Linked DNA regions of Homo sapiens. The protein of the gene in region 3 purifies or fractionates together with the protein of the main gene of each other region. This does not show direct contact. Each region holds a gene or a part of one and is shown on either strand. Other genes may lie near its edges.

Region 1 (9,759 bases), on a different chromosome or scaffold from region 3:
GCTAAATTGTACACTCTCCCAAGGATGATGGGACCATCCCCACTCAGCTGTAGCCATTAAAGAAAATTGAGGTCATAGATAAGACTTTTCCAGACTTTTGTAACTCATTGCTATCAGCTTGCTCCTTGTTTTGTACTCAGAAGCTGGGTGCATGCCAGATTCTCAGGAATTCCATAGGCTATCTCCCCTATAATCTCTCTATGCAAAATAGATTATAACTTGAAAATGTATACTGATTGGCCAACATTTTAATGTCAACACACACACACACACACACACACACACACGCACACACGCACGAGATTTCTGGCTTCTCTTAAAGACCTAGCTATGCTAAGACAGTGCTCCTGCAAGACAGCTCAGCTGGGACAGCCGCTGCCTTTAGAGGGGATATTTATTCTCTGGTTTGCCACAGGTCTCATCCTAGCCTTTTTGTTTTATACCTGGCTCACTCACTCCACATATTTGTTACTTGCTTGGTCTGGTAGGCATTGAAGCTTCTAACCCTCCCCCCTCCTCTAGAGCGCTCACCCCTAAAGTTAGGCAAAATTCCCATAAGGAACCATTTGCTTGTCATTAAGGCAAAAGTGAAAAGCTCTCCAGTGGAAAAGATGGGATTCAGGCCAATGGCTGTCTGTACACACACCACTTTCCTCACAATCCAGCAAGCTCCAGAGGGGAGTCAGACTAGGGTTTGAGTAAGCAGGCTGCAGCCACCAAGTGTTCTGGTGAACACACTGGTCTTCGTTGGTACAAATTTCATTTGTAGGAAATTAAGCCGAAAACTGCCTCACTTCTGTCCCTTGGTCTTTCTCCAGCCTTCAGCACATAACCAATTTCCTTCTTCTTTTATACTTAAGTCTTGATAATCATCACCCATGAGTGTCTCTTCCCACCTCCAAATGTGGGAAGCGACATGTAAATTCGTGCCTCTGTAGACCATTGCCCCTAAGATTTAACTGAGACCTTATTCTGATAACGCCTAGAGCTTGGCCATGCCACCCAAATGTGCTGCTCCAAACTCTGCACAGCATGAGGGTGATCTGACCAAGGACAGGCAGATGAGCTCCTCTGACTCAGACCCTGGGCCTCCATAACCCATCCTGACACTGCACAAGCTCAAGAGAAAAAAAAAAAATAGAGTGGCCAGGCACAGTGGCTCATGCCTGTAATCTCAACACTTTGGGAGGCCAAGGCAGGTGGATGTCTCTACAAAAAATGAGCCAGGTATGGTGGTACATGCTGTAGTCCCAGCTACCTGGAAGGCTGAGAGTTGGGAGGATCATCTGAGCCCAAAAGGTCAAGGCTGCGGTGAGCCGTGATGGTGCCAATGCACTCCAGCCTGGGTGACAGAGACCTTGTCTCAAAAACAAGGAAGAAAAAAGAAAGGACTTGCCAAGTAAGGTCCTCTGGGGTACACAGACCTGACATGAGGGATAATCTTCCCGTTACGGGGTTCCAGGGGAAGATCCCCTCCTAAAGAAAGAGAACCAAGTATTTCTAATGGGTAAGATCTAAAAACACTTCTCTGCACTCCCTCCTCTCCTTAACAGACTGACACTACTTTCTAAGGATGACAACCTAACTGAAATACAGACAGTCTCTGACTTACAATTTTTCAAGTTTACAATGGGTTATCAGGGTATTAAATGCATTTTCTACTTATGATGGATTTATCAGGATATAACCCCATCGTAGGCTGAAGAGCATCTGTATGCTTCAACTGAAAGGTCAGGGTCCATTTTTAAAGGGCCTGTGGAAAGAAGAGCCAGGTGGTGAATGGTGACAATGCCTATTTTCCATGGCACTGCTCATTAAGTCAACCTCGGTATAATTAGGAAAGACAAAATTCAAGCCAGTCTTGGAATCATTGGTTTAATGGTTCTGAATAAATGGTTAAGATTGATGTTTCCAGCCAAGTGAGATTTGGGTTTAGATATAGTTTGGGCTTAAGTATCCTTTATCTCAGATTAAATGAGACAGTGCATGTAAACCACTTAGAAGAATGCCTGGAACACATTAACTTTCATTACTAATGTTTTTGGTCATTCTTAAACATTTTCACTTCTGCCACCACCCTTTATGCAGTCTGGCACATAGCTGTCACTCAGCAAATGTGAGCAAACAAACACTAGAGACTTTAGTCTGCCAGGTCTCTAACATGCAAAGCCATGGGGCCAGGTCCATACACTCCCTCCACTGAGAAAAAGACAAATGGCTTAGGCTACAAGGTTTGGGTCACCAAGGAAAGCTGTCAAATAATGAAGTGGGTAAGCAGATTCCTAAAAATTGGAACCATTTCAGCAGCAGTTTCATCCACAGGGAGACAGAGTAAATGCTCTCTCAAATCTGTCTCACATCTATAGAAACCTTACTCTATTTATGGTCTTTTGGCATCTTGCTCTGCTATCTCACTTGAGATCACTCCTATAGAACTAATAGAGGAATAAATCAAAAGCAAACCAGTATAAGTAGAGACGCAATAAAATTTGGATGTCTTGAGTTCTGAGGGGCTTGCACACACTTGTTAAGGCATGCAGTGTGTGCTAGGGGCTTCAGCAGGGAACTCCACTCAAGGACGTGGTGTAGGAAGCAAAGACAAACCAACCCAAGTGGTACTGAAGAGGACAAGATGGGAAGGACATTTTTATTTTCCCTAATCTTCAGGCAACCTCACCAAGCTGGAGGTCACATGTAGCTGAGTGTGAAACCAAGAAAAATACGAAGCTTCAAAAGTACTGTGCGTTGTATTTCTTCATTCTCTGGCAGGCTGGGAGTCCAAGGTCAGTCTAGGCAGGAGGGCTGCTTGGCCTAAGCAGTCACACAATTTTCACCGTCTTGAGCATATCTGACAAGACATACGTGTCATCCCAACCCCTCCCAGGCTTCCTCAGGGTCCGCTCCAAAGCCTGGGCTGTTTCTAGGAGCTCTGGTGTGGCAAGTTTTTGCTCAGGGTGCAGCTGACAGAACAGGATCTCATTCACTTCACCCTCAATTCGCCGGACATATAGGAGGGGGAACACTGCCTTGAGCCCAGCCAGCACTGAGTCTTTTAGCCCCAAGTCTCGGCACACAAGGTTGAGAATAAAAACACCTATAGGGTAGGAAGAAAAGTCAGAATGACCTCACATCAGGAGACATATGAAAGACAAGGATCGGCTTTGAGGAAAATACCAATTCCTGTCCCAGGGAGACTGGTGGACTAAAACACACGGTGGTGATGAGTTTGCAGAGAATACACAGCATAGAAAGGCAGATGGAGAAAAGCATGGGGAGCATGTGAGCCATAAACAAACTCCAGCCTTATTTCTTGCTCTTCTGTGCTGCTCACATGTTATTTTACCATTCTCCAAGCCTCAGTTTCCCAAATAGCTTCTCAAAGAATAGCTTTGAGAAAGAAGTGATTCCCAGCTGGGCACGGTGGCTCATGTCTATGATCCCATCACTTTGGGAGGCTGAGGCAGGCGGATCACTCGAAGTCAGGAGTTTGAGACCAGCCTGGCCAAAATGGTGAAACCCCGGCTCTACTAAAAATATAAAAATTAGCTGGGCATGGTGGTGGACGCCTGTAATCCCAGCTGCTAGGGAGGCTGAGGCAGGAGCTGCTAGTGGGGCTGAGGCAGGAGAATCTCTTGAACCCAGGAGGCAGAGGTTGCAGTGAGCCAAAATCCAGCCTGGGTGACGGAATGAGACTTTGTCTCAATCAATCAATAGAAAGTGATTCCCTACGAAAGTAAAATTTACCAACTCCACAGGGATATTACATTCTTGGCATACACACCATAGAGTATTAACCAGTGACAGGGCCGAGGTTATCTTGACTTCTGACAATTAAGATTCCAAATCAAGCCAGTTACCACAGTGCCTTACACCAAATCAAAAATACCTAGAGGGTTGTTAACATAGGGATTAAAGGCTCCAGTTTTGAGGTGACAAGGCACTGACTTTGAGCCCCAACTGTTACCTTGCGTCACCTTGGCAAATCTTCAACCTCAGTTTCCTCATCCAAAAAGTGGACTGCTATGAAGATTAAATAACACACTGCCTAGTAGAGCACGTGTAGGAAGCATCATGTAGTAGCTAGCATCACCATGCTGGTGGGAGTGTGAACTGCTACAACCACTTTGTAAAACTGTGTGGTAGCATCTACAAAAGCCAAAAACATACCCATAACCTATGATCCAGCAATTACAACCCTGTGTATATACCCAAGAGATCTGAAAACATAATTCATCAAAAGGCATATACTAGAATGTTAATGGCAGCACCACTTATAATAGACCCACACAGGAAACAAACCAAATACGAACAGTAGAATGGATAAGCGAATTGTGTTAAGTTACATGATATAACACAGCAATAAAAATAAGCCATGTAAACACAACACTGTGAATGAGTCTCACAAACATCATGTTGAGTGAAAGAAAATGGACACTTAAAGAGTACATTCAGCCAAGTTCAGTGGCTCATGCCTGTAATCCCAGCACTTTGGGAGGCCAAGGTAGGAGGATCGCTTGAGGCTAGGAGTTTGAGACCAGCCTGGGCAACATGTTGAGATCCTATCTCTACAAAAAATAAAAATAAAAAAATTAGCCAGGCATGGTGGCATCCACCTGTAGTCCCAGCTACTCAGGTGACTGAGGTGGGAGGATTCCTTGAGACCAGGAGTTTGAGGCTACAGTGAGCCATGATCAGGCCACTGCACTCCAGCCTGGGAAACAAAGCAAAACCCTGTCTCAAAAAAAAAAAAGGGAACATTCCAACATTCCATATGATTCCATTTATATAAAGAACAAGAACAGGCAAAATTAAGCTGGGTGGACAAATGTTAAGACAGTGATTACTCTTGCGAGGACAAGTTACTGAAAGGGGATAAGAGATACGACTTTCTGGCAAGCTGGAAATTTTCTGTGTCTAGTGCTAGTAAATGGGTGTATTAAATTTGGAAAAATTGATCGAGCTCGCACTTCTGTGCATTTTTCATTAAAAAGATAATTTTTGTTAATGGTCCCTTCTCTCCTCCCTCTCCCACCTTTTGTTCTCCATACCTTCAGGAGTCAAGATGCTTTTAACCTTCTGTAGAAAAGATTGCTCCACAAATGCTGGGGGCGGACAACTCATTCCCAGTGTTGGGTCCTTACTGTCAACATCAAACATTATGACATCGTAGCAAGGCCGTGCTGGGAAAAAGAAGGAAACAAGTCCTTGTCTTTGCTGGATAAAATAATACCATTTACATTCCAACACTATACCTCCTCTTTACCAGTGGTGGGCATGGTGACTAAGTTAGAAGGATGACACAGAGGATGTGGTTTGCCTGTAAGGGCACTGATGTCATGGCCCAGGGGAGTCTTTGTCATCAGGGTTCAGAGTGTCCCATAGTAAAGATGGAACCTTCTTCCACATTTAAAAGCACCTTCCAAAGGCAAAAACATTACTGGGGTCCCCTTTGCATGAATATTTCTCGGTTAAGAGTCTATCAACACCAGTGGCTTTTGACTGTGGCAGAACATTACAATCACCTTGGGAAGCTTCTAATGTGTACTACACGCCAACCAACAGAATAAAATATCCTGGGGTAGTAGGGGGCAGATGGGAGGAGAGATGGGAAGCCTCTGGTATTTTTCTTGAGCTTTCCAGGTAATTCTAAATACAGTCAGAGTTGAGAACCACTGATCTAGACAAAGCAGCTGACTAAGCCTTTAAGGGCTGACCCAGCAAATGGTAACTTTTAACTCTGAAAACAGCACATTTTGCCTCATAGGAGAAAATGTTCTGAAATTTCAGTTAGTGTTATCTTTGCAGTTCCATGAACAAGAGCTGACTCAAGAAAGAAATGATTTTGCTAAATGGGTGAGAAAGAACTGATGAAGAAATGGATCTGCTCCTTACTATAATGTTAAATTGTTTTTATAAGGGGTAGGTCTGCAATGCCACTGACAGGTTTTTAGAAAATTTTGAGACTGTGGTCATAATTATTCAATAATTAATAAGTATTTAATTAGGACTGCTGCATGCTTATCATTGTTCATAGCACAGATCTGATTTTGGTTTCTTACAAAGAGAACATGTTGGCTCATCAAAGTCCAAGGAAAACAATAGCCTGCATTTGCAGCCTTGAGCCCTCCAGTAATCTGAAACATTTTGGTGTTACAGAAGATGGGCAGAGCCATTGAAAACTGATCTATAGATAACAACAGCAGTAACATCATGGATTAAGTACTTACCATGTGCATGGCACTGTTGTAAATACTTCACCGTATTAGCTATCTGGGCTTGGGCACCTAAACTAACCCTAGCCTCAGAGAGGGAACCTACGAAACTGTTACAATTCAATTCAGTTTGCAATTAAAATTAAGATAGCATCTGTTCAATACTTGTCCCAGGCCTCCTAGTTTGCCACACCCTTACTGGAAAATATTCTAATCTAGTGAGACCAGAGTATCTGTTATGGAATGAGCAGACCAGCAGTCCTGAACAGAACTGAACCAACCTAACTGCCTTCTCCCCGAAGGACTCGAGCTCCAGAAAGTACTAAACTCACCAGCAGCCTATCTGTATAATAGCAGAGTTACTGTCCCTAGTATTTTACAGAAAATTATTATGCTTATGGTTTTTGTCCTAAATCTGGGATGCAAATTACTAGAGCAAATGGAACCTTAATTCTAGTTGCAGAAGGCCTATCAAAATTCCCACAGAGTACCATCTGCATCAAGGTTTCTCCACCTGAGCACTGTGGAAATTCTGGGCCAGATAATTCTGTCATCAGTGCCCGTCCTGAACATTGTAAGATGTTTACTAGCATCCTAGACCTCTACCGTTTAGATGTCAGTAGCAACATCCCCCACCCCGATTTGTGACAATGAAAAATTGTCTCCATACATTACCAAATGTCAGACCCTGAGGTTGTATACCACTGATCTTACATGAATACTGTTTTGCTCTATTTCTGGCTTTACCTCCAGTTGAAATATTTACAAAAATACCTCCCAACACACATTCCACCTTTTCTTCTCTGTTTCTTTGCCCAGTTAGACTTCAGGTTTCTTAAGATGGTGAGGAAATGACAAGGTTACAGGTCAGAAAAAAGCCCACTGGTCTGTTAGCACCATAAGGGCAGGAATGGCCTGTTTTACTTATTGCTTTACATTCACACCTAACACAGTGCTAAGCATATAGCTGGTACTCTAGTGAATAAGTATATCAACAAATGAACAGGCTGAAGACTGGAACGATACTCATGCCACTCTCTTAGAGATAAACTGTAGAGGCCCTTGCGGGCCTGACAATGTCGCATCAATCATCCCTCAACACCCCTTCAAATGCTCCAAGAGCAGTACCTTCTCCTCCTCCTGCCAAGCTGGCGATATAGTCCAGGCCATCTGCAATGTGGACCTTCATTCGGTCACTCTGGGAGAAGCCAAACCACTGGGTGGCCACTTCCAACATGGAGGGATCGATCTCCACAGCATCAATGCAGGACTTTGGAAAATGATCGTGGACAAAGAGGGGGAGGCTGCCCCCGCCCAGGCCTACCACCAACAATGCCAGTGGGATCTCTGTAAGAAAAGAATAGAGCATCACATTGCCACCTGTTCACTGGAAAATTCTGTACCAGCCTCAGGGAAGGCAAAAGGGAAAGTCAGCTCACTGTCTCCATTCAGGGGATACAAGATTTAGAGGTCTCCCTGTCTCATTTCAGAAATCTAGGAGTGAATTTGACATCTGATAACTGAATCCTGGATTCATGATGACTAGATCCAGAAGATGAACTAGTGTGTTATTATTATTGTCTCTTAAAGATCTCAAAGTGGCCAGGGGCAGTGGCTCACACCTGTAATCCCAGCACTTTGGGAGGCCGAGGTGGGCAGATTACTTGAGCTCAGGAGTTCGAGACCAGCCTGGGCAACATGGCAAAATCCTGTCTATAGAAAGTAGAAAAATTAACTGGGCATGGTGACACACACCTGTGGTACCAGCTACACGGTAAGCTGACGTGGGAGCCTAAGGAGGTCAAGGCTGCAGTAAGCTGCGATCATACCACTGCACTCCAGCCTGGGCAAGAGTAAATCCCTGTCTCAAAAAAAAAGACTTCTTCACTATAAGAATTATTAGACCCTCTCTAGGAAAGGGAAGAAGAGTGGCCAAACAATCTTGCTCATGATTACAAGGCAGCAGAGGTGCAATGTCCCTTGCCCTTGACTCAAAAGGCCACACCGTCTTCTCAGACACCCTCACCAAGTAAGGGTAAGCCATTCAAGTTCCACAAATCACAGGAAAACAAAGGCCCAACTCCTACTCCTAAGCACAGAGCACAGCCACCACAGGGGGATCAAAGGAAGACAACAAAAGTCACCCGAAGGAGACAGACCCTGAGAATTAAATCTAAGAACTGAGATTCTAGTGACATACATCAACACTAAGATAGGACAAAAGTATAGGGTATTCCAAGAAGGCACATTCAGGGACTTCAGGTGAAAACGGTTACAATCACAGACAAAACATGAACAATTTCACTAATGCAGTCAGATCCAAACCTGCTATTAGCGATAAGGCTATGACTGCATTAACTATAATATGAATCTTTTCAGAAAGTAGAAATTCAAGATAGAATTGCATCTTTTGTTCAAATAATGCATTACAGAAAAGCTGAACAATTAAAATCTGTGTATTTTTACATATCTCATTGAATACATGATATACCTTAATTTTAAAAAGAAATGAACAGAAAAAATACCACTTAGACTCTAACATATTTCAATACAATTTCAATATAACAGGTTGAGTTTGAGGCAACAGTTAATTAGAATGCTCATTAACTTATAACATGGTTGAGATGAAGAAAGATACATTGTCAGCTTGTAATTGCTGTTCTTCAACTACAATGCAAGTGACACCAATTGTTTAGGTCTGTAATCTTTATGCTCCCTTCTGTGGAAGGCAGTGGCATCTCTCTCACCTAGGAGTAGCTCTGGGTTTCTCAGCAGGGCAAGGCCAGCGATCATGGCTTTGTGGTGTTCACAACACAGGTAACTCTTATCAATGGACTGCCCCGGGGCTGCAGGGAGGTCCTCCGCATCAGCAGGCCGCTGCTTCTTCCTGTCCTTTTTCCGCTTCTTCTGGGCTAAACAAGAGATATGAAGCCCTATGCTTAGTACACTAGTCCTCAGGAAGCAAGGGTTACTGGCAGCAGTGTGCTCCAGATGGCTTGAACACTCAAAAGACCCAATCGTTAAAATTTTGCAAACTGGTTGACATCATGTTGATAGCTTGAAACTGGCCGTAGTGAAATCATCTGGATGTTTGTCCCCTACAAATCTCACGTTGAAATGTGATCCCCAATGTCGGAGCCACCATGCTGGTCACGGGGGCAGATCCCTCATGAATGGCTGGGTGCCTTCCCCATGGTATTGAGTGAGTTCTCACTCTAGAGCTGTTGTTGAAAAAAGCCTGGCATCTCTTTTGCTCCCTCTCTTGCTATGTGATGTACCTGGTCTCCCTTCACCTTCTGTGATAATTGTAAGCTTCCTGAAGCCTCACCAAATGCAGAAGTTGGTACCATGCTTCTTGTACAGTCTGCAGAACCATAAGCCAAAATAAAAGTCTTTTCTTTACAAATTATCCAGTCTCAGGTATTCCTTTATAAGCAACGTAAAACAAACAAATACAGTGGTGGTATTTATACTAGAGAACTGATAAACACTATAAATTAGGATGTGCCCCCCCTACCCCGCCCCACAAAGACATAGTCATTAAACA
Region 2 (10,672 bases), on a different chromosome or scaffold from region 3:
AACTCAGATTTAAAAGTATGTCCGATTCAGAAATTCAAAAAAAGCAAATAAGTTTTAAATGTTATAAATGAAAATCACAAATTATAATATAATCTACAAAAGCAAACTGTAAATTTCTTGAAAACATACATATCCATCTTTTCAAACTAGCAGTACTAAAAGTCAAAGTGATCATCAATTAGGATTTAATAAAATTTTATACTCTATGATATACAAGAAATATCATACAACAGATTATGTATATATCATCATCTAGTTTGAAAGATTAAACACTTAATTTTCTTTAACATTGGGTGTTTTGTTGTGAAAACAAAGAACATCCAAATTTAGAATAAACAAGCCAAATTATCTTTTGGCATTTTAAATAATATTCTGACATGCTGGATTGTATTAAAGTCCCATTCTCTGCCTCCACTGTATTGCCCATCAAGGCTGGGGGTGGGGAAGAAGAGAGGAGTAGACAATACCTGCCTAATGATAATGAATCAATCAAAGGTACCACTTCCAGGTAGAAGTAGCAGCACTATTATTCATATGAAGGTAGTGTATCATAAATATCAACTTCTAGCTTTGGAAGAAAAACAGATACTCAGTGCTTCAAAAATAGCCTGTTCTCTTTCCTTTCCGCAATATAACCTGTTTCTCTTTCCTTTCCACAAAAAACTAATTTTAAAAATAATCTCTAACATTTTTACTAAAGAAACCTGCCTAGATCATTGAAGCTAGTGGTTTCCTAAACCTTTAGTGGGAACAAGGTCATGATGCTCTTTTAATTTAATTTTTCCCCAGAAAAGTATAAATTTTCATTTAATTTCTCCCCAGAAAAGTATAAATATACAGAGTTCACAGACCCTTGGAAGACCATTTATGCTCACGCTAACAGATTCAGGTTAAGAGTCAGAGAGATGAAGTAGAAAATTTCCCAAGGTCCCTCCAACCCTCTTCCATAATTCTCTCTCTGACTCATAAGAACCAACTAAATCATTCATAACCAAACCAAACAATATACTTTCTTGCATGACCAACCCATTTAAAAAAAAAGCAGCTGACAGTATCTATATAGCAATATCCACCAGAAAATAAATTGTACTGGCAGCATTTTAAAATACAGCATGTGACTAGTAATATCAATGAATATTATAGTTGATTATAGCTTAGAGAATGTTTTCACATACAACACCAAATAATCCTCAATTCTGGTAAAATAGAAGTACGTATTATTTTTATCCCCCTTCCACAGCTAAGGAAAGAGGTTTAGAAAATTACTTGCCATGCTCACACAGCCAATAAGTGGAGATCTGGGATTCTAATAGAGAATTGTGTAGTACCAGAAGTGAGCTCAGAACAATATTATAGTCTGGTGCTTCCATAAAAGCTCCTCAAAACAGAGAAAACAGAATTTTTAAAAATAGACTAATGGGTGACATTTTTATTGCAGACATATCTTGACATGAGTAAACAAAAATTAATTTATTTAAAATGCTCAACTCCCTCTTGTTTCTTTGGCTAATATAAACCATTTTGTTCAGAAAAAAAAAAAAGACATAGTCAAGTGAATTTTAGCGACTGAAAACAACATTTTGTTATTTTATGAAACATTTATCCTCCCTCATCTCTTGCTTTTTTTGGGGGTGGGGGGAAATAGGGTCTCACTCTGTCACCCAGGCTGGAGTGCAGTGATGCAATCATGGCTCACTGCAGCCTTGACCTCCCTGGACTCAGGTGATCCTCCCACCTCAGTCTCCCGAGTAGCTGGGACCACAGGTGCACACCACCACATCTGGGTAATTTTTGTTCGTTTGTTTGTTTTTTTGTAGACACAGGGTTTCGCCGTGTTGTTCAGGCTGGTCTGGAACTCCTGGGATCAAGCAATTGGCCTGCTTTGGCTTCTGAAAGTGCTAGGATTACAAGCATGAGCCACCGAGCCTGGCCTCTTTTTTTTTTTTTTTTTTGGAATATAGAGAAAGGTCTCACTTTGTTGCCCAGGATGGTCTCAAACTCCTGGGCTCAAGCAATCCTCCTGCCTTGACCTCCCAAATTGCAGTTACAGGTGTGAGCTACCATGTGGGGCCCTTTAGTTCTTAATATACAAAAATAAATGTGACTCTTGGGAATTCCAATATAAGTAACCAAAAATTTAAACATTCAATTTATAAAACACAAAAACTATCTGAAATTAATGTTTAAGATGTCTGCAATAGTCTCTTTAATCTTTTTAAAATGACAATATCCATTTCAGTTCTCTACAACTCTCAAAAGTTCTTGATAAAAACAAAAGGGTTATTTGTCCAAACCCACAGAATGTTTAACACCAAGAATGAATCCTAACTGTGGATGTGATAACATGTCAATGTAGGTTCATCAATTGTAATATACGTACCACTCTGATGAGAGATTTTGGCTCTGTAGGGGTAGGCGATACATGGGAAATCTCTATACCTTCCACTCAGTTTTGTTGTGAACTTACAACTGCTCTAAAAAAGAAAATTCATTTTTCAAAATAGCAGGTGGGATCAAAATTTACCCAACTTTTTTTTTTTTTTTAGATGGAGTCTCGTTCTATTGCCAGGCTGGAGTGCAGCTGCGTGATCTCAGCTCACTTCCACCTCCCAGGTTCAAGTGATTCTCGTGTCTCTGGGACTACAGGCATGCGCCACCATGCCCAGCTAATTTTTTTGTATTTTTAGTAGAGATGGGGTTTCACCATGTTGGCCAGGATGGTCTTGATCTCCTGACCTCTTGATCCGCCCGCCTCGGCCTCCCAAAGTGTTGGGATTACAGGCGTGAGCCACCGCGCCCGGCCCTAACTTTCTTCTTAATGAATGAAGAAATACTGTTTTTAAAAAATAACCCTCACTGAATGTGAACTGAGTTTCTTGTCAAAAAATGTGCAATTATTACAGAATATATCATCTTAACCAATTATCAGTAATCTTATCAAATGCTAAAAGAATTGGCAGCTTTAAAAATTAAAATGATGAAGCTAAGTGCTCATATGTAGTTGAATAGAGTATCCTTAGACTTTTTTTTTCTTTTTTTGAGATGGAGTCTCACTCTGTCGCCCAGGCTGGAGCGCAGTGGCATGATCTCGGTTCACTGCAACCTCCGCCTCCCGGGTTCAAGCCATTCTCCTGTCTTAGCCTCTCGAGTAGCTGAGACTACAGGCATGTGCCACCACGCTCAGCTAATTTTTGTTATTTTTAGTAGAGATGGGGTTTCACCATGTTGGCCAGACTGGTCTCGAAAATCCTGACCTCAAGTGATCCCCCCGCCTCAATCTCCCAAAGTGCTGGGATTACAGGCGTGAGCCACTGCACCCGGCCCCTGAGACACCTCTTTTTATATTTAGGCTTACGCAATTTTGGTATCTTGAAAGCAATTTTTTTAAAAAGTGACGAAATAAATAAAGTGACTAAAAGTTTGAAGTTTGAACTGGGTCAGTTTGACAAATTAAGAAGGGTGCCAGGAGGAAGTCTGAGGAAAAGCAGCAGCTTAATGCCACCGCCATCTCCAAGCAGCGTTCCAGGCGCCAGCACTGTTAGCAGCAGTCCTCTGCGTACCCAAGAGTACCGCAGGGCCAGAACACGAGAAAGATGCGCGAAGAGGATTTCCTTCTAGAGAGAGAATAAAGAACACCAAGAGTCCAACAATTACCATCTTGTATAGGAGAAAAACAATGCAAAGGAAAAAACGTGCAACCAGCAGATAAAATACTTATGTCAACCCAGGTTCTAAGGACCTTTTCCCAAAGTATCCCTCTAAACTGGTAACATTAGCTTAGGGCAGAGTCAAGAAGAAAGTTATGCCATTAACACAGATGAAAATACTGAACGTTTTCTATGAAAAGTCACCCGATTAAACACTGCCAAGAGGGAAAAACAGTGCAAGTCCAGTAAAGCACGAGACACGTAGAAAATTCAAGCTATGTAGCCAAATCGCTCTCTCTGAAGAAAACAGCAAGCCAACTGAACCCAGCACGGAGTGGAAGGCGTAAAGAGCTGTCATCGTGGCGGTAACAACTCCACCGGGCGGCTGAGCGTCTAGAAAGAGGCTGCGGTTCCTGGTTCCACATCAGGAGGCACTCTCCACAAGGTCTACACCGCCGCTCCCGGGAAGGCACCTCCAGGGCGGCCAGCAAGCCCCCCGAGTGGGGACAGGCAGTGCCTTCCTCGCCTCGTCCCCGCGCGGCGTGGCCCGGAGGTGGCCCACTCGCCCCGCCCCCGCAGGCCGCGGCTCCAGGGGGCGTCCGGCCGCCCTCCCGGGGCCCCGAACCCGCGCCAGCCGCACCGCGCCTGCCCTCTTCCTGGACCCCGCGAAGCACCTGCCTGGGCCCCTCTTCGAAAGACTGGGAGGAAGGAGTCAAGGAGCTGCCGGGGAGGCTGACAGAGCCAGAGGCTGGAGCTCCCCTACGGGAGCCGGGAGCATAACCCTGCTCCTCCCGCCAATGGGGGCGACAAAAGCCGTGGAAGGTTGCTCAGGGGCTGGATCTCCTGCTGTCCGGGCCCCAAGCCCTCTCAGCTGTGGAGTTTCGGTTGGTGCACGAGGGCTCGAATTTCCTCCGCACACCGGAGACCCAAGACGGGACGGTGTTGCGACTTGGGGGCTGGGGTGAGGGAGGGCTCGGCGCGAGCGGACGGCACCGCACAAAGGAAGAGGGGACTGAGGGGAGACGAGGGGACTGAGGGGAGACGAGCGTCCCGTTACCTCGATCCTCGACCCTGTTCTTCCTGATGTCGCTAAGGTTGCAGCCACGTTACCACGCTCCCAGAGCCCCGGCCGCCCTCAGCGGAACCTCACCAACCCCGCGCGAGCACCCGGCGGACGCGCGCTCTCCTGCGCGGCCCCGCGGAGCCCCGGCGGGCGCTTGGCGTCCTCTCGCCTCAGCCCCCGCGAGCCGCGGCCTCTGGGGGCGGGGCGGGCTGGGCGGGGCTGCGCACGGCACTCTGGGAAGTGTGGTTCTCGGGACCTCCTCCCCGAGGCCACCCCCACGGCCTCGCCCCCGCGGCTCCCTAGTGGGCGGCCGGGTCTCAGGGACTGGGCAGTGTTGCCCGGCCTGGTGAAGGCGGACCAGGGCGTGGCGGAGGTCCCCATAACAAATCTTGAAATAAAACACTGCCTAAATACCTTTGAGCTTATCCATGCTTCACTTCTGCGGCGGTACAAAATTTAGTTTCTTTGTATGTCCATCAAATCCCCTTCTGCGGTTGTGAGTGTTCCTGGGATTTATGTCTTTGAAAAAAGAAGGGGAAAAAAAGGTTTGCATTTATTCCTGTGTCACTTTCACCACGTGCTCTACAAAGGATATACAAAACAACTGTGTTTATAAATACACACCCACAGTTTGTAAACCTAAGGAAGCAGTTGATTGACCTGAGAGCTCGCTGCTAAAAAGCAGTGCAAGTGGCCATGCGCGGTGGCTCACGCCTGTAATCCCAGCACTTTGGGAGGCTGAGGCGGGCGCATCACGAGGTCAGGAGTCGAGACCATCCTGGCCAACATGGTGAAACTCCGTCTGTACTAAAAATACAAAAATTAGCTGGGCGTGGTTGTGCGTGCCACCAATCCCAGCTATTCGCAAGGCTGAGGCAGGAGAATTGCTTGAACCCGGGAGTCGGAGGTTGCAGTGAGCTGAGATTGTGCCATTGCACTCCAGCCTGGCGACAGAGCAAGACTCCGTCTAAAAAAAAAAAAAAAAAAAAAAAAAGCAATGCAAGTAAAAGTGCTGTTGAAATGAATTAATTTTTCTATAATGTCAATAAAGTGGAATGTGTGAGGCGGGAGATCAAGAGACAGCAAAAAAACAAAATTTTTTTTAAAGAAAGATATTCCCCTAAATGTGTCTTTTGCCAGACTAACCTCAAACTTTCACAATCCTAGGAGTCTATTTCAGAATAAATTTAATCCTAGGACCTTTATTAATATTAACACATATGAACATTAGCACATTGATTTTAATAGAAATGAACATATATATATCTGTATATATATATGCATCTTCTATAAAAACCCCAAAGCAACTATTTGAATTTGAAATTTTATTTCTAGAAAAAAAATCACATTTTTTACATTGAAATATAAATAATTCTTAATATTTCAAAATATTCCTCTTTAGAGCATTAGTATTTTGCACATTTAATGCAAATACCTTTAGAAAAATAGAGTAAGATGAGTTTTAAAGAAGTATGCAGTGAAGAAAAGTCATAAAATGTGTCTGGAACGTGATGTAAAAATTGTTGGGACTCAGAAATCGATACCCCAAAATATGGTGCTTTGCCGCGCTGAACTGAGGAAGCAGCTTCAAGGTGTCTCTTACCTTCCCCATTACCCCTCCTGCCTCTCAATTCTTTGTCTCTCCCAAAGCACCAAATGATGTCGTTCTCTGAATTTCCCTTATCTGCCTAGAAACTAGACCTGCCAAAGAGGAACATATTTGCCTTACCTGATTTTTCATTTACTTAACTCATATTGGAGGAAGAAAGACTGAAGTCTGTCAACACTCTTGGACAGACTTTTGTCACAAACTATTGTCTGCTGTATGGGCTCAACACACTTTTTCCCAGGCCATTGTATGTTCCCCATTTTCCCCTAAAAGTCCTTTACTATACCTTAAGTTGCCACATTTCCCCAATCTCCCTTTCCCCCATAAAGAAGAGTATATAAACGTCTCTACCCCATTGAGTCATTGGGTAATCATTCTCCTGAAATCTCCCTGTGTTATGCACATTAAAATAAATTTTGTATGTCTTTTTTCCTATTAGTCTGCCATTTGACAGTTGATTTTTCAGTGAACCTTCCAAGGGAAAAGGGAAAGCTTCCCTGTATTCCCTTTATTAAACATAAAACACAATATGTATTTTATTTATTTATTTATTTTATTTTATTTTTTTGAGACGGAGTTTTGCTCTTGTCGCCCAGGCTGGAGTGCAGTGGCACAATCTCAGCTCACTGCAACCTCCACCTCCCAGGTTCAAGTGATTCTCCTGCCTCAGCCTCTGCAATAGTTGGGATTACAGGTGTCTGCCACCACGCCCGGCTAATTTTTGCATTTTTAGTAGAGACAGGGTTTTACCATGTTGGCCAGGCTGGTCTCGAACACCTGACCTCAAGTGATCCACTCGCCTCAGCCTCCCAAAGTGCTGGGATTACAGGCATGAGCCACCACGCCCGGCCTACAATATGTATTTAGTAAGACCATGTTAATAGAAATTTTGTTTTTTATAGCCTAAGCTTTTATTTTATTTTATTTATTTTATTTTAGAGACAGAGTCTCACTCTGTTGCCTAGGCTAGAGTGCAGTGAGTAGCACAATCATGGCTCACTGTAATCTTGATTTCCCCGGCTCAGGTGATTCTCCCACCTCCCGAGTAGCTGGAATTACAGGCCCACACCACCACACCTGGCTAATTTTTTTGTTTGTTTTGTTTTGTTTTGTTTTGTTTTGTAGAGATGGGGTTTCTCCATGTTGCCCAGGCTGGTTGTCAAACTCCTGGTCACAAGGGATCTGCCTTTCTTGGCCTCCCAAAGTGCTGGGATTACAGGTGTAAGCCACCATTCCTGGCCACTTTTCTTGTAATAAGGTGCACAGTAACTCCTAAAAATGCTTATAAAAAAGAGCACAACTGCTCTTTTTCTTCTGCTAATTGACATATACACAATAAACTATTTGTAGTTACTAACAAATCAAAGAAATATACACAATATTTCAATATTATTATCATCTATTTATCGAAGAACATTTTTTGAGCACCAGACACTGAGCTAGGAACTGGGAAATACGCAGTAGACAAAATTGAATAGTCCCTGCTCTCATGGAGACTTAGGATCTAGACTCGGAGACAGAGAATTAAACAGTGAATAATGAAAAGGTATGCATGGGGTGGCCAGGGGTTTGGGGAGCACCTAAGATACACCTAATCTAGAGCCTTTTATTGGGGCAGAGGAGTCTGGCAAAAATTCTGAAAATTAAATGAAATTTTTAAACCAAATAGCTATAAACTGGGGCAAAAAAAATCTTTCCCTAAAAAGTGATATATCTGTAACAATGCTCTCAAATAATTACTTAAAAATATATACAGTATCTTACAAAATAAGACATACCTCAACTAAAACAAAACACACATTTCCTAAATCGGACGAAATGTCTTCTTAGTTTTTACCCATTCCTCCCTAGCTCCATTTGAGAATAAGCAAGACTAGCCTATAATAAGTAAGGATCTAAGAAATTCCTTCCCTTCCCTCAAAGTCCGATAAATTAAAACTGGAAAGGATCTGATAGCTGTTTGTTCATTTTATGATTGTACTTTAGTCAGAAAAAAATTGCAATATTTTAACCCCAATCAACATTTGCATTTTTTTTTTTTAAATTTGAGATGGAGTCTCGCCTTGTTACCCAGGCTGGAGTGCAATGGCACGATCTTGGCTTACTGCAACCTCCGTCTCCCAGGTTCAAGTGATTCTCCTGCCTCAGCCTCCTGAGTAGCTGGGTTTCGGCCTCCCAAAGTGCTGGGATTACAAGCATGAGCCACCGCGCCGGCCAACATTTGCATTTTAAGTCTTTATCTTTAATCCTGGGATAAAAGGCTTTATAACCATCAAAAGAATTTCAGATGTGGGCTGGATATGGTGGCTCATTCCCTGGATGACAGAGCCAGACAATTTTTCTTTCTCTTAAAGGAGTCGGGGAGCAGGGAAAGAATTTCAGATGTGGCTTGCCGAGGGATTTGGAAAGATTAATGAAGAAGGTTATTTTATCTTCATTTGCTAGGGAGGCAAAGCTTGCAACCAGAGAGCAGGTCCCAGAAGAGTTGCTAAGGTTCTTTGTCTATGGAAACGTACTTAAAGAGCCTGAACACCGCCAGCAAGACCACTATCTTCCTGTCCAGGTCAGGGTTACTGGCTTGCAGTTACATTTCATCCCAATCCTTTGACTCCTATCCTGTCACCCTCCTACAAAACCAGCCTTTACTGTGGCACTTCAGCTTCCCTCAACAATCATTTCCCGCCTTTTATCCTAAGACACACATGTGGATGGCTATGTTTTCTGACCTTAGGCTGGTGGCTCAACTTGTGCTGTTTTAATAAATTAATGACAGTTCTTCCATCCACTACCATGCAATCAGCCTGACATAGGTATCTCTAAACCTTTGCTGACCATTTTCTGATATATTTCTCTGATATATATTGTTGTTTTGTTTTTGTTTTTATTTTGTTAAAGAGATGGATGGGGTGGAGTTTGGTGGGGTGCGGGGATGGGGGGATTTTGCTATGTTGCCACGGCTGGTCTTGAACTCCTGGCCTCGAGGGATCCTCCTGCCTTAGCTTCCCGCCTTAGCCTTCGGAGTGGCTGGGATTACAAGGCTCAAGTCACAGCACCCAGCATCCCTGAAATATTTAAAGTTCCCAATTTTTCTGTGGGTCTTTGTAATTGCTGTTCCTTCTACCCCTTTGCCTGGTGAACTCTTTCTAATCATCTAGTATTAACTTAGAAAACTTTTTAATTAGGAAACCTTTCTTGGTTACAGTCCCCCCTCTCCAGTTTTGGGTTACTGCCTCCTATATATGCTCATCTTACAACTTATTTTTGCCCCTAAAGTAGCACTTAGTGAGCATTTTAAGAAGTTGTCTATATCTTTCATTTGTCTGAAATCTCCTTAAATAGAAAATAACAGCATAGTACTTGATGTATAGATGCTTAATAAATACTTGGACTATAAATGGATGCATATCAACTTTGCTCAGTAAACAACCATTCGGTAACTACTTCCTGCCAAGGGCCAGGCAGTAAATATTTTAGGGTTTGGGGCCATAAGGTCTCTGTTGCTTCCTAAAGGACAATAGTCAAGTCTCACTGGTGGCTCCAAAATATCTATATAAGACAGAATTTGAGTTAAAACTTGGAATGAAAGGAGTAGGGGTGCAGCTCTGGGTTAGAGGACATTACTTGAAGATATCTTTACAGGCACACAGTTATTGTTTCCACTGAATATCTATTTTAGGTAGTTTGGGGGTGGGTCTGTGGGTGAAGCTAAAACAGAAAGCATCATCCTTGCTATGACCACTGCTAGTTCTGTTGGTGCTCTAAATCATTTCTTTTGAAAATTACTAGTGCTGGTGACTTTTGAAATGCGGGTGTTGTTGTTTTTTTGTTTTGTTTTCATTTTTAGCATTTTATTTTTATTACTCCATCATACCCAAGTCTAATCAGTTTCCATTTCCCATGAACCTGCCTAGATAGGGTTGAATTCTCAGGCTGAATATGTGGGGGAACTGTGGAATTCTCTCCGGAGCAATATGAGAAATGACAGAATGAGAGCAATTTGCCTCCATCCCTACCACATTCAAGAACTGTGACTTTAGTTACCAGAAAAAAACACATTTAGAGAAACTTTGATTTTCAGTAACTATTTTTGAAACATGTGCCACATACTTCTGAGCAAAATTGTATCCATATGTATGGTAGAAATTGGCACAGTGAAACAAATGTAATTGTGTTTCCATTGCAATTTGTATTCCAAATGTACGATGTCTGTGAAAAGTACTTCTTTCATTAAGATATAGCTCTATATTAGGCCAGGCGCGATGGCTCACGCCTGTAATCCCAGCACTTTGGGAAGCCAAGGTGGGTGGATCAGTTGAGGTCAGGAGTTCAAGACCAGCCTAGCCAACATGGTGA
Region 3 (11,144 bases):
TTACACACAAAACCATGGCAGGAATGGTCATAGCAGTGTTATGCATCATAGCCAAGAAGCAGAGGCAACCCAAGTACCCGTCAACAGCTGAACCCACAAATCAAATGCGTTCCATTTATATAATGGAATATTATTTGAAAACAAAAAGGAATGAAGTATCGATGCATGCTACAACATAGATGAATCTTGAAAACATTAGGCCGAGTGAAAGAAGCCAGCCACAAAGGACCACATATCGCGTGATTCCATTCACACAAAGTACAACTGCAACTTCAGGACAGACAAATCCACAGAGACATGGAATAGGTTAGGGCTGGGGGAAAGAAGCAGGAGTGATAGCTAAGGGGTGCAAGGTTTCTTTATGTCTTCGTTTTTCACTTTAGGCTGATGAAAATGTTCTAAAATTGATTTTGGTGACAGATGCATAACTCTGTCAATATACTTAAAGCCATTGACTCGTACACTTTCAGTGGATGAATTGTACAAAACATGTATCTCAATAAAGCTATTAGAAAAGAAAAAAAGAAAGAAGACCTCTCTGGATCTACTCAGTTCTGCTTTTTGTTTTGTTTTGTTTTTCTTTTAAGACAGGGTCTCTCACTCTGAGGCCCAGGATGGAGTGCATTGGCACAATCCTGGCTCACTGCAGCCTCAACCTCCATGATCAAGTGATCCTCCTGCCTCAGACTCCTGAGCATCTGGAACCACAAGCACACATCACCACCTCTGGCCTTAGCTCTGTGTTTCTGAGATTCAGTCTCTCCTACTCCCTACAAACACCACCCTGTACCTTCCCTGGGACCAAGACTTACATTAAAAAGAAGATGAGGCACAGACAGATACAGAGCAGGGCCATGACACCAGCACCACCAAGGGCTGCAGGAACCACTCCTGTCCCGAGGTTCGATCTCCCTGCAGAAAAGAGGGGCGTGCAATAACTCACTCCCAGGACTCAGACTCTTGTCCTCCCACCTGCTGGGCAACTTGCTCCAGGGCCCTGCTCAGACAGGAGATGAAGAACCCTGTCTCCCCACCACCAGTCCAGCCTCTCTCTCCCACCATCCATCACTCTGGGATCCATGCCCCTCCCCTCAGGCCCCTGCCCTCTGCAATACGCCCCCTGACCTTGCAGCAGCAGGACAGAGCCGCTCTGGGACCCATAGATGTTCCAGGCCTTGCAGCTGACTTTGAGGTCGGAGCTGAGCCCCCCGTGGAGGATCAGGGAGCTGTTGGCCCAGGGCCCAGCTGAGCTGGAGTTGACCTTGAATGAGCCCTGGCTGCTGTTCCCCTCCAGCGGCTTCTCCTCAAGCCGCCAGCACAGGGAGGGGGCCGGCCGGGCTCGAAAGGAGCATCTGCAGTGCAGACCCTCAGCCTCCCAGGAGCAGGAGGGGCCCAGCAACTGTGGGAGGGCTGTGGGGAGGGAGGACAGAACTCAGCAGGGGGCCTCTTCCTTCTTTAATACCATGCAGTTCCTGCTCCAGCTGCCCCCACACTCACAGTAAACTGAGAGATTCAGAAAAATTTGCAGGAAGCCCAGCGGGTGCTGAGCGCGGCAGGTGAAGCCTCCTTCTTCTGCAGACCTTACTCGACGAAGCTCCAAGATCCCGGTATTGGAGATGGGGGTGGCGTTCAGGGCAGGGGAGCCCTGGAACCAGCTCAGGTGTGCAGGGGGGTTGCTGGGAGCATCACAGAGCAGCCGCAGAGCCTGGCCCTCCAGGACCGGAAGGTATGAGGTGTTTTGCAGGATCTCTAGGGCTTTGGGGAGAGAAGGGTGGGGAAAGAGAGATGGGGCCAGGGAGGCTGACAGTCCCTATCCTTCCCTCCTTCCCAGGATCCAGATGACATCTCCCTCTCCTCCCCTGGCCTATGCTGGCTTGATTGCATCCTGGTTCAAAGGCTGGGCCTTTGCACACTCAGGAAACTGACCAAAAGTGTCTGAGTCTCATGTCTCCAGAGGAGGCTCAATATCTCACTGGTACATGCCTGGACTGTGGTGGAGAGAGGACAGAGAGCCCCCGGTGGCGTTGGGAAATACAGTCCGCTAATGTGACAGGAAATAAGACTGAGGATGCAGGAGTGGAAGGGTGAGAGAAGAACCACAGAGCTGGGCTGACTGAGATGAGAGGGGCATGGAGTGGTCCTTAGTGACTGTGGAAAGAACCAGACCACAGGAGGGATGGGAGATGGGTGGGGTCTAAAGTCTGTTCACTGCTTTGAGCAGAGTGCATGAGTGTGCACCTGTGTGCGTGTGTGTGTGCGTGTGCGGGTGTACGTACATGTGTGCGTGTGTGGGTGTATCTGCATATGTGTGTGTGGTGTATGTGCATGTGTGCGTGTGTATGTGCATGTGCCTGTGTGGTGTATGTGTGTGTGTGCATATGTGTGTGGTGTGTGTGCATGTGTGCCTGTGTGCATGTGTGTGTGTATGTGCGTGTGTGTGTGGTGTATTGCATGTGTATGTGTGTGGTGTATATGCATGTGTGTGTGTGCGTGTGTGTGTGCGTGTGTGCATGTGTGCGTGTGTATGTGCGTGTGTGCATATGTGCCTGCACATGGGGCTCACAGAAGGTGGAAGCCAGAAGGCAGTAATTCTCATTCTTGCTCTTCCCAAATCTGATTGCATTCAAGCTCTGATTCTCTACCTCTGCTCAGAGACAGACCCAGAGGCAGGTCCCAGCTTCAGAGAGGAGGTCTTTCCTACCTATGCCGTTCCTGAAGATGGTGATGGTCTGTGGAGCATCTGGGATAAAAAGATATAAACTTGGCTTCAGCAGTGAGGAGTGAGATGGGCATGGGCCCAGGAGGTACCCAAAGAGGAGCCACAGAAACCCACCAAGCGGGGAAGGCTGTCCTGTCTCACTCCCCGCAGATCCCAAGGCTTAGATCCACACACAAGGTTTCTCAAGTTATTGTTTTGTTTCTCTCTGTCTTCCTTACACACACACACACACACACACACACACACACACCCCTCACTCCCACTGCCCTTGAGGACTCAGCTGTGTCCCCAGCACCACTCACAGGAGACATTGAGCTGGACAGTTCTCTCCGTGGTCACCTGAGCTCCTTGGCGTTTCATCTGACAGGTGAGGTTGGTGCCATGGTCCTCGGGCCTGGGGGTGAGGGTGAGCTCCGAGGAGCGGGTGGTCTCGGGGTCCAGGGGGCTGAGGGCATTCCCCGTCCAGGAGAATGTGAGAGGTGGTCCCGCTTCACAGGATCCTGGAAGGCTGCAGCTCAGCCTTGTGGGGCGGCCGGACTCCAGAGGCTCCAGAAAGTGGATGTCGGGTTTCTCTATCAGGGCTGAGGAGGAGACAGGGAGATACCTGGGCCCCAGGGGCTTGAGGACGTAAGGTGTGACCCCGAGAGTGGCCAGGCCTCAGGCCCCGACCTGCCCCAAGTCCTACACCTCCTCCAGCCGCCCCTGCCCAACTCCTGTCCCTGTTCTCATACGGGGGTCTCCACGTCCCAGGGTCCTCTCCTGGGGTCCCTGCCATACCTGTCACCTCCAAGTTCAGCTTATTCTGTTGGTAGCTATATTTTACATCCCTTCCTCTCTCCACGCGGAAGAAATAGCTTCCCGTGTCCTCCATTCTGGCATCTCCGATGCTCAGGGAGCAGTTCTTCTTCTGGACATCCCCAAGGAGGCGGAATCGGCCCTGGGTCTCTGGCTTCACTCTTCTGTCTGGGTTGTTTGTGGCCACAACCTCAGCGTAGTATGGGATCTCCCCGTCCCGGAACCAGTAGACGTAGAGTGGGGGAGAGGAATACCAGGATCTCCAGGGGTAAGAGAAGGAGCAGGGCACAAGGACGCACAGGCCCTCCTGCACCGTCACCGACTTCTGCACTTGCAGCTCGTACACTGGCTTCTCCTGCAGGGACCCTGGGGGGACACAGAAGCTCAGCTGCAGCTCCAGCCCCCCTTCTCACCCCTGTGCCTGTCCCTCCTCCCTCAGCTCACTCACCCCCCCACAGCAGGGGCAGCAGCAGCAGGGGCAGCATGTCTCCATCCGCCAGGGCCCCAGCCCAGTCCCAGGTCCGGCTGTCAGGGAAGGAAATGCTCCAAATGTCCAAACGTGGGGTGGGGCTGAGAAAGCCCCGACAGGAAGCCGGAGGGTGAGTGAGAGCTGTGGACGCGCACAGAAGGGGAACTTGGGCATCACGTGCTGTTGGGGTGAGGCGGGGGCTGGGAAGCCATTCTGCTCCCACCCCGACTGGACGCCGCAGGTGAAGATACTGAGGCCCCCAGACGATGTGAGGCTTGTCCAGCTGAGGATCTGGAGGTGATCACCCCTCAAATGATGTTTCAGTCATGAGTGAGATCCTCAGGGGGCTGAATGCAGAAAGAAAAGAGAAACAAGGGCTTGTCCTGGTGATGAGGTGAGATGTCAGAACCACCCTCCACCTAAAAACCATGAAACATTCTGGAAATACATAATTTTAAATTTGATTTTAAATGTTCAAAGTGACCAGGCATGGTAGCTCATGCCTGTAATCCCAGCACTTCGGGAGGCTGAGGTGGGAGGGTTGTTTGAGCCCAGGAGTCTGAGACCAGCCTGGGCAACATAGCAAGTCACCATCTCTACAAAAAATAAAAACTATTAGCTGGTGTGGTGGCACACCTATAGTCTCAGCTCCTCCGGGGCACTGAAATAGGAGAATTCCTTGAGCCCAGGAGTTTGAGGTTGCTGTGAGCCGTGATCGCACTACGGCATTCCAGCCTGGGCAACAGAGTGAAACCCTGCCTTAAAAAAAAAAAAAAAAAAGTTCAAAAGGGCTGAAAAAAAATTTTTTTGACCCAAATTTCGTGGAGGGTCAGAGCATGAGAGAGCTGAAGCACTCTTATGTTAAGAAGATTCTTGGGACACAGCACAGTCCACTTTGGGTCTTGATGGACCTGAGGGTCTTGTGGGACGGCAGTGAAACACAAGCCCTGCTAAAGCCTCATCCTATTAAGGAGCTACAGAAGCAAATTTGCCACTGTGAGGCTGATGAAGCTCAATCTTCAATGCCCTCCCTTGCAGGATCCACTTTTCAGATGCCCAGGAGGGGCCCACGCAATGTGTGGAAATAACCTGCCTTGTTACTGCTCTTTTATGAAAGAAATTTCATAATAGTTTCCCAAAATTTAACAATATATTAAAAATTTTTCACATTCCGATTAATGTGTTGTGAGAATAAAGACAGTTTCTTAAACTATCAATGATCAAAACAAACGTCAACCACCCATGCCAGAAGAAATACCGACTTCTCTTTCTATTCTATCTATAAAAATTGTATTATAAAATTATTCTCCAATATTGGCCGGGTACAGTGGCTCACATCTGTAATCCCAAGCACTTTGGGAGGAGGAGGCGGGTGGACCACCTGAGATCAGGAGTTCGAGACCAGCCTGGCCAACATGGAGAAACCTCCTCTCTACTAAAAGTACAAAAATTTAGCCAGGCATAGTGGCGCACACCTATAGTCCCAGCTACTCCAGAGGCTGAGGCAGGAGAATCACTTGAACCCAGGAGGCAGAGGTTGCAGTGAGCCAAGATCACGGTACTGCACTCCAGCCTGGGTGACCAAGTGAGACTCTGTCTCAAAAAGAAAAAAATTATCACCATTATGAAGGCAATCAAAGAAAATCAGTCAAAAATATAGGGAAAAAGTATGCAGGTGTAGCAGACAGGTAGACTATACTATTAACAAACATAGTATGCCATTTTTCTGAGTTGTCTCATATTTTGACATTTTAGATTTTGTGATTTGATGTGTTTTCTCAGTCCAAAAATCATCCTATGTGTGCCAAATTTTGTATTTTTGTATTTTTTTTTCTAAAGAGTCACAAAGACTCTCTTCTTAACCAAACTTATGAAAGCTCCTCTGAACCCTTTTTTCAACTAGGCTTTGTCCTTGGGACTGCCTTGTCCAGCTGTAGCAAGAATCCTGCTAAGTTGGTTTTGCAAGACTCTTGATATCTGATCGCCTTCACTATCTGATCAAATTCCCTAGCCCTCACCCTTGGTATCTGATCATGCTGGCCTGCTTTCAGCAAGAATCCTGTTAAGTCAGTTTAGAAAGAATCCCGGTATCTTCAGTGTCTCCTCTTAGTAGTTTTCCGTCCACTAACACACACGGCCAGCCTCCCTCACCTGCTGCACTATGCTTCTTGCCCATAAACCCCCCTGGTCTTTGCTGTATTCCGAGTTGAGCCTGACCTATCTCCATTATTGCACTAGTCTTTTTTTTTTTTTAATTGACTTCTGTTTTTTTCTTCTGAGACGGGGTCTCACTGTGTTGTCCCAGCTGGAGTACAGTGGTGCAACCTTAGCTCACTGCAACCTCCCCCTCCCAGGTACAAGCGATTCTCCTATCTCAGCTTCCTGAGTAGCTGGGAGTACAGGTGCATGCCACCATGCCCAGCTTATTTTTGTATTTTTAGTAAAGATGGGGGTTTCACCATGTTGGCCAGGCTGGTCTCGAATGCCTGACCTCAGGTCATTTCCCTGCCTTGCCTCCCAAAGTGTTGGGATTACAGGCATGAGCCACTGTGCCTGGCCTGCACTAGTCTTGATACCTGTCTCAGTCATCCTGAATAGTCAATGTTAACAGGTGTCAGAATAATTTTTTCTTTTTTCTTTTTCTTATTGCAAATTCTGAACTTTATTCCTCATTTGAACTGTGAAAGTAATTCATCATACCGGCTAGTAGGATCTAAAGATAAAGACTTGATTATGTAGGAAAATGGTATTTTTATCTTTATATTAAAATCTTAATATTAAATTCCCTCTCCTAAAATACATAGTATGGCTTCTGTTTTCACATCAGCCTTAACTAATTAAATCTCAAGAGATGAATAAGTGAGCATTGGGTGATTTCAAATCCCTTTATGATATAATTCATAGCCAACTAGAAATTCTCTTTAGAGAATTTCCCAAACAAGATAAAGGGTGTCTTCAGCAAACATCATATACCTAATGAAGTAGCTTCAGGTCCTAGCATAATAAGGCAATAAAAATAAGCAAAAGGTACAGCAATTACAATGAAATTTTAACAGAGGTCTTTATCAATGACATGACTGCACATATAGAAAAATCCAGGCTAAGCGTGGTAGCTCACGCCTGTAATCCCAGCACTTTGGGAGGCTGAGGCAGGCGGATCACGAGGTCAGGAGATCAAGACCATCCTGGCTAACATGGTGAAACCCCATCTCTACTAAAAATACAAAAAATTAGCCGGGCGTGGTGGTGGGCGCCTGTAGTCCCAGCTACTCGGGAGGCTGAGGCAGGAGAATGGTGTGAACCTGGGAGGTGGAGCTTGCAGTGAGTGGAGATCACACCACTGCACTCCAGCCTGGGCGACAGAGCGACACTCCATCTCAAAAAAAAAAAAAGAAAAATCCAAAAGTATATACGGATACATTTGAAGCCTTAATAAAATATTTGCAAGACAGCCAGAGATTAATCAAATTACAAAATCAGTTGTCTTTCCACATCACAGTAATAAAAATGGAATTTTATAAAAATGCCATTGACAAAAGCTTCAAAAATTATGATATAATTTATCAATATCAAAAAATATGATATAATTTTTGAATATATGGAATATATCTAACTATTAGAGATGTATCTAACAAAAATATGTATATGTCACCTCTATGGAGGAAATTATAAATCTGTATTCAAGGACATTAAAGATGTAAATAGGCTGGGCGCAGTGGCTCACGCCTGTAATGCCAACACTTTGGGAGGCCGAGGCGTGTGGATCACCTGAGGTCAGGAGTTCGAGACCACCCTGGCCAACCTGGTGAAACCCCATCTCTACTAAAAATACAAAAATTAGCTGGGTGTGGTGGCAGGCACCTGTAGTCCCAGCTACTCAGTAGGCCAAGGCAGGAGAATCACTTGAACCTGAGAGATGGAGGTTGCAGTGAGTCGAGATTGCACTATTGCACTCCAGCCTGGGCGACAGACCAAGACTCCGTCTCAAGAAAATAAATAAATAAAAAATAAATAAATCAAGATGTAAATAAACTGAAAAAGAGGCCATGTTGATGAGTTTGAGAACAATATTGTATGAATGCCAATTTTACCCAACAATCTACAGCATCAAAGGAATATGTCATACAATCTCCCGGGTGATTTTTGTGCAATTTGGTAACTCTATTGTAAAATTTATACTGAAGTAGAAATGTTCAAGTATGGTCAAGGCAACCATGAAGAACAATGAATGGCTTTGCAAGATAAAAAGATGTATCATAACATTACAGAAAATATGACCATTTCAGACGGGGCACAGTGGCTCACATCTGTAATCCCCGCACTTTAGGAGGCCGAGGCAGATGGATCACTTAAGGTCAGGAGTTTGAAAGCAGCCTGACCAACATGGTGAAACCCTGTCTCTACTAAAAAATAACAAAAATTAGCTGGGCATCGTGGCATGTGCCTGTAATCTCAGCTGCTCAGGAGGCTGAGGCACAAGAATTGCTTGAACCCAGGAGGTGGAGGTTGCAGTGAGCTAAGATTGTGCCACTGCATTCCACCCAGGGTGACAGAGTGAGACTGTCTCAAATTTTTAAAAATGTGAGAAAATAGGCCCATTTCAATGGTTCACACCTGTAATACCAGCGCTATGGGAGACCGAGGCAGAAGGATTACTTGAGCCCAGGAATTCAAGACCAGCCTGGGCAACATGGTGACACCCCATCTGTACAAAAAACACAAAAATTAGCTGGGCATGGGTGGCTCATGCCTGTAGTCTCAGCTACTTGAGAGGCTGAGGTGGGAGGATCACTTGAGCCCAGGAGGTGGAGGTTGCAGTGAGCCAAGATTGCAGCACTGCACTCCATCCAAGGTGACAAAGTGACACAGTGAGACCTTGTCTGAAAAAAAAAAGTGACAATTATGTATTGACCAAGTGGAACAAAATTGAGTGCCTGGAAATAGACCTCAACCACAGGAAACATCAAGTGTGATAGAGGAAGTGGCAAATAATAAATTTTTCTTTTTATTTATTTTGGGTTTTTATTTATTTAATTTTTTTTGAGACAGTGTCTCTGTCACCTAGGATGGAGTACAATGGTGTGATCAGGGCTCACCACAGTCTCTATTTCTCTGGGCTCAGGCACTCCTCTCATCTCAGCCTCCCAAATAGCTGGGACTACAGGAATGCACCATTATGCTTGGCTAATTTTTTAATTTTTTGTAGAGACAGGTTCTCACTATGTTGCCCAGGCTGGTCTCAAACTTCTGGGCTCAAGCGGTCCTCCCACCTCAACCTCCCAAAGTGTTGGGATTACAGGCATGAGCCACTGGGCCCGGCCAACTTTTCAAAAAATATCTGTGGGCAAAACTTAATGCAATCAAGTTTGCAGTAAGTTTGCAATGAAATTTGACTCCCAGCTCATGCATAAAAGTCAAGTACAGGTAGCTTGAAGGTCTAAATATGACAAAGAAAACAATAGAGCTGTTAGAAAATAATATAGCAGGAAATCGCCATGAATTTGAGGTAGGTAGGATTTCTGAGCAAAACATAAATAACACTATTTATTTATTTGTTTATTTTTATTATTTATTATTATTTTTTTTGAGACAGAGTCGTGCTCTGTCACCCAGGCTGGAGTGCAGTGGCGTGATTTTGGCTCACTGCAACCTCCGCCTCCCAGGTTCAAGCGATTCTCCTGCCTCAGCCTCCGGAGTAGCTGGGACTACAAGCACACCCCACCACGCCCAGCTAATTTTCGAATTTTTAGTAGAGACGGGGTTTTACCATGTTGGTCAGGATGGTCTCGATCTCCTGACCTCATGATCCACCCACCTTGGCCTCCCAAAGTGCTGGGATTACAGGTGTGAGCCACCACGCCCAGCCAATAACACTATTTATAAAGAGAAAGATTGAAAACTTGACCCCTGGCCCAGACACTGAGCTCTACCTCTCTGAGGTCTTGCCTCCACAGGACCTGCACATCCAAAGGTCTTTTCTCCCCAGGACCCTGACATCCTACTCCAGCTCCCATAAGCCATGCTAAGGAGGCTGATTCTCTCCATGTTTCTCTGGCTTCCAAAGGGGAAAACTGAAGGGCACCTGCAGAGCACCTGAAGCCCAGAAGTAAAGGTGACCACTGAGACAAGGAGTGAGGTAGCAGTCATGGGTCTCAGGTCCCTGAAAGGAGAAGGCAGCACCTTTTTGAGAGAAGGTAATGGGTGTTTCCTCTCCATTTGGCTCCAGGGTCCCTTCGGAGTGATGAGTAACTCCATGTGTGGTCCCACCCTCATCTCCACCTCTTGTTGCTCACTCTTGGAGAACTTGTGCCCCTGTCACTCTCACAGTGACTCCTTAGGTAAAAGGTTTATGTTCTACCACATCCTCTTAAGATATATCTCCCACTAACTCCCATCTGGAATCCCCCAGTGCTCAGAGAAGAGTTATTGTCCTGGGAGCAACTGAGGAGGTGACATTGATCTTGGGAATTCTATTTTTTATTTTCACCCTCTCTTTGTGATCGATCACTAGAGAACAGTTACCACGTGCCTGGCTGCAGTGAGTTTTAGGATTCCAGGATCCCAGGTGTAGGAGAATGTACAAAACATTAGGTCACTTGTTTCCTTGGGTGAGAGACAGAGATACCTGTAGGGCCAGCCCCAAACCCCACCTGGTCCTCTCAAGCATTTGTCCCACTCAACACTAGAGGCATCTCTCAAGCTGGAGATCCCAGATCTTGCCCTGGGACAGCTTCATTCCCCCAACCCCCATCCTCTGTGCTGTCTATTAAGTGCAAGAAACAAATGGGGTGAGAGAAGAGGAAATTGCAACCAGAAGCCACAAGATATAGACAGAAGGGCAGAAAAGGAAATTTCCCCACAGCCTCTACCAGGAAATCTGGGCCCCAAGGGCAAGGAAGAGGCCAGGCTGGCCCACCTCAGGGGCACAATGCCCATTCTAATAAAAGTAAAGTAACACAAAATACAGAATTGGATGTAAGAAGGAAAAAAAGAATTGAGGTAAAGAAATTACCATTTTCACATTCAAGAAGGGCTACAGAGTTTGCCTCAAGAGAAAAGTGTGTATATAGTTTATCACTACTTTGTTTTCAAATTAAACTGGTGATAATATTTTTTATTGAGGTGAAATTCAGACGAAAAAATTACTAGTGGTAATTTTGG

What was found.
Region 1: the proteins of SIGLEC5 (region 3) and METTL13 purify together in Homo sapiens (affinity purification with mass spectrometry; 2 studies listed by BioGRID and IntAct, with this or other methods). This does not show direct contact.
Region 2: the proteins of SIGLEC5 (region 3) and KLHL8 purify together in Homo sapiens (affinity purification with mass spectrometry; 2 studies listed by BioGRID and IntAct, with this or other methods). This does not show direct contact.

The regions. Positions count from the first base shown.
Region 1 is NC_000001.11:171,789,817-171,799,575, reverse strand, and holds the end of METTL13 (eEF1A lysine and N-terminal methyltransferase), read right to left. Parts: intron 9,125-9,759; coding exon 8,960-9,124; intron 7,560-8,959; coding exon 7,341-7,559; intron 5,181-7,340; coding exon 5,049-5,180; intron 3,095-5,048; coding exon 2,820-3,094; 3' UTR 1,860-2,819; downstream 1-1,859. UniProt on the Homo sapiens protein: Dual methyltransferase that catalyzes methylation of elongation factor 1-alpha (EEF1A1 and EEF1A2) at two different positions, and is therefore involved in the regulation of mRNA translation.
Region 2 is NC_000004.12:87,215,714-87,226,385, forward strand, and holds the start of KLHL8 (kelch-like protein 8), read right to left. Parts: upstream 4,906-10,672; 5' UTR 4,705-4,905; intron 4,556-4,704; exon of another isoform or gene 4,322-4,555; intron 2,475-4,321; exon of another isoform or gene 2,381-2,474; intron 1-2,380. UniProt on the Homo sapiens protein: Substrate-specific adapter of a BCR (BTB-CUL3-RBX1) E3 ubiquitin ligase complex required for The BCR(KLHL8) ubiquitin ligase complex mediates ubiquitination and degradation of RAPSN.
Region 3 is NC_000019.10:51,626,337-51,637,480, forward strand, and holds the start of SIGLEC5 (sialic acid-binding Ig-like lectin 5 isoform 1 precursor), read right to left. Parts: upstream 4,066-11,144; 5' UTR 4,000-4,065; coding exon 3,963-3,999; intron 3,881-3,962; coding exon 3,497-3,880; intron 3,301-3,496; coding exon 3,022-3,300; intron 2,741-3,021; coding exon 2,702-2,740; intron 1,756-2,701; coding exon 1,498-1,755; intron 1,411-1,497; coding exon 1,126-1,410; intron 913-1,125; coding exon 813-912; intron 1-812. UniProt on the Homo sapiens protein: Putative adhesion molecule that mediates sialic-acid dependent binding to cells. Binds equally to alpha-2,3-linked and alpha-2,6-linked sialic acid. The sialic acid recognition site may be masked by cis interactions with sialic acids on the same cell surface.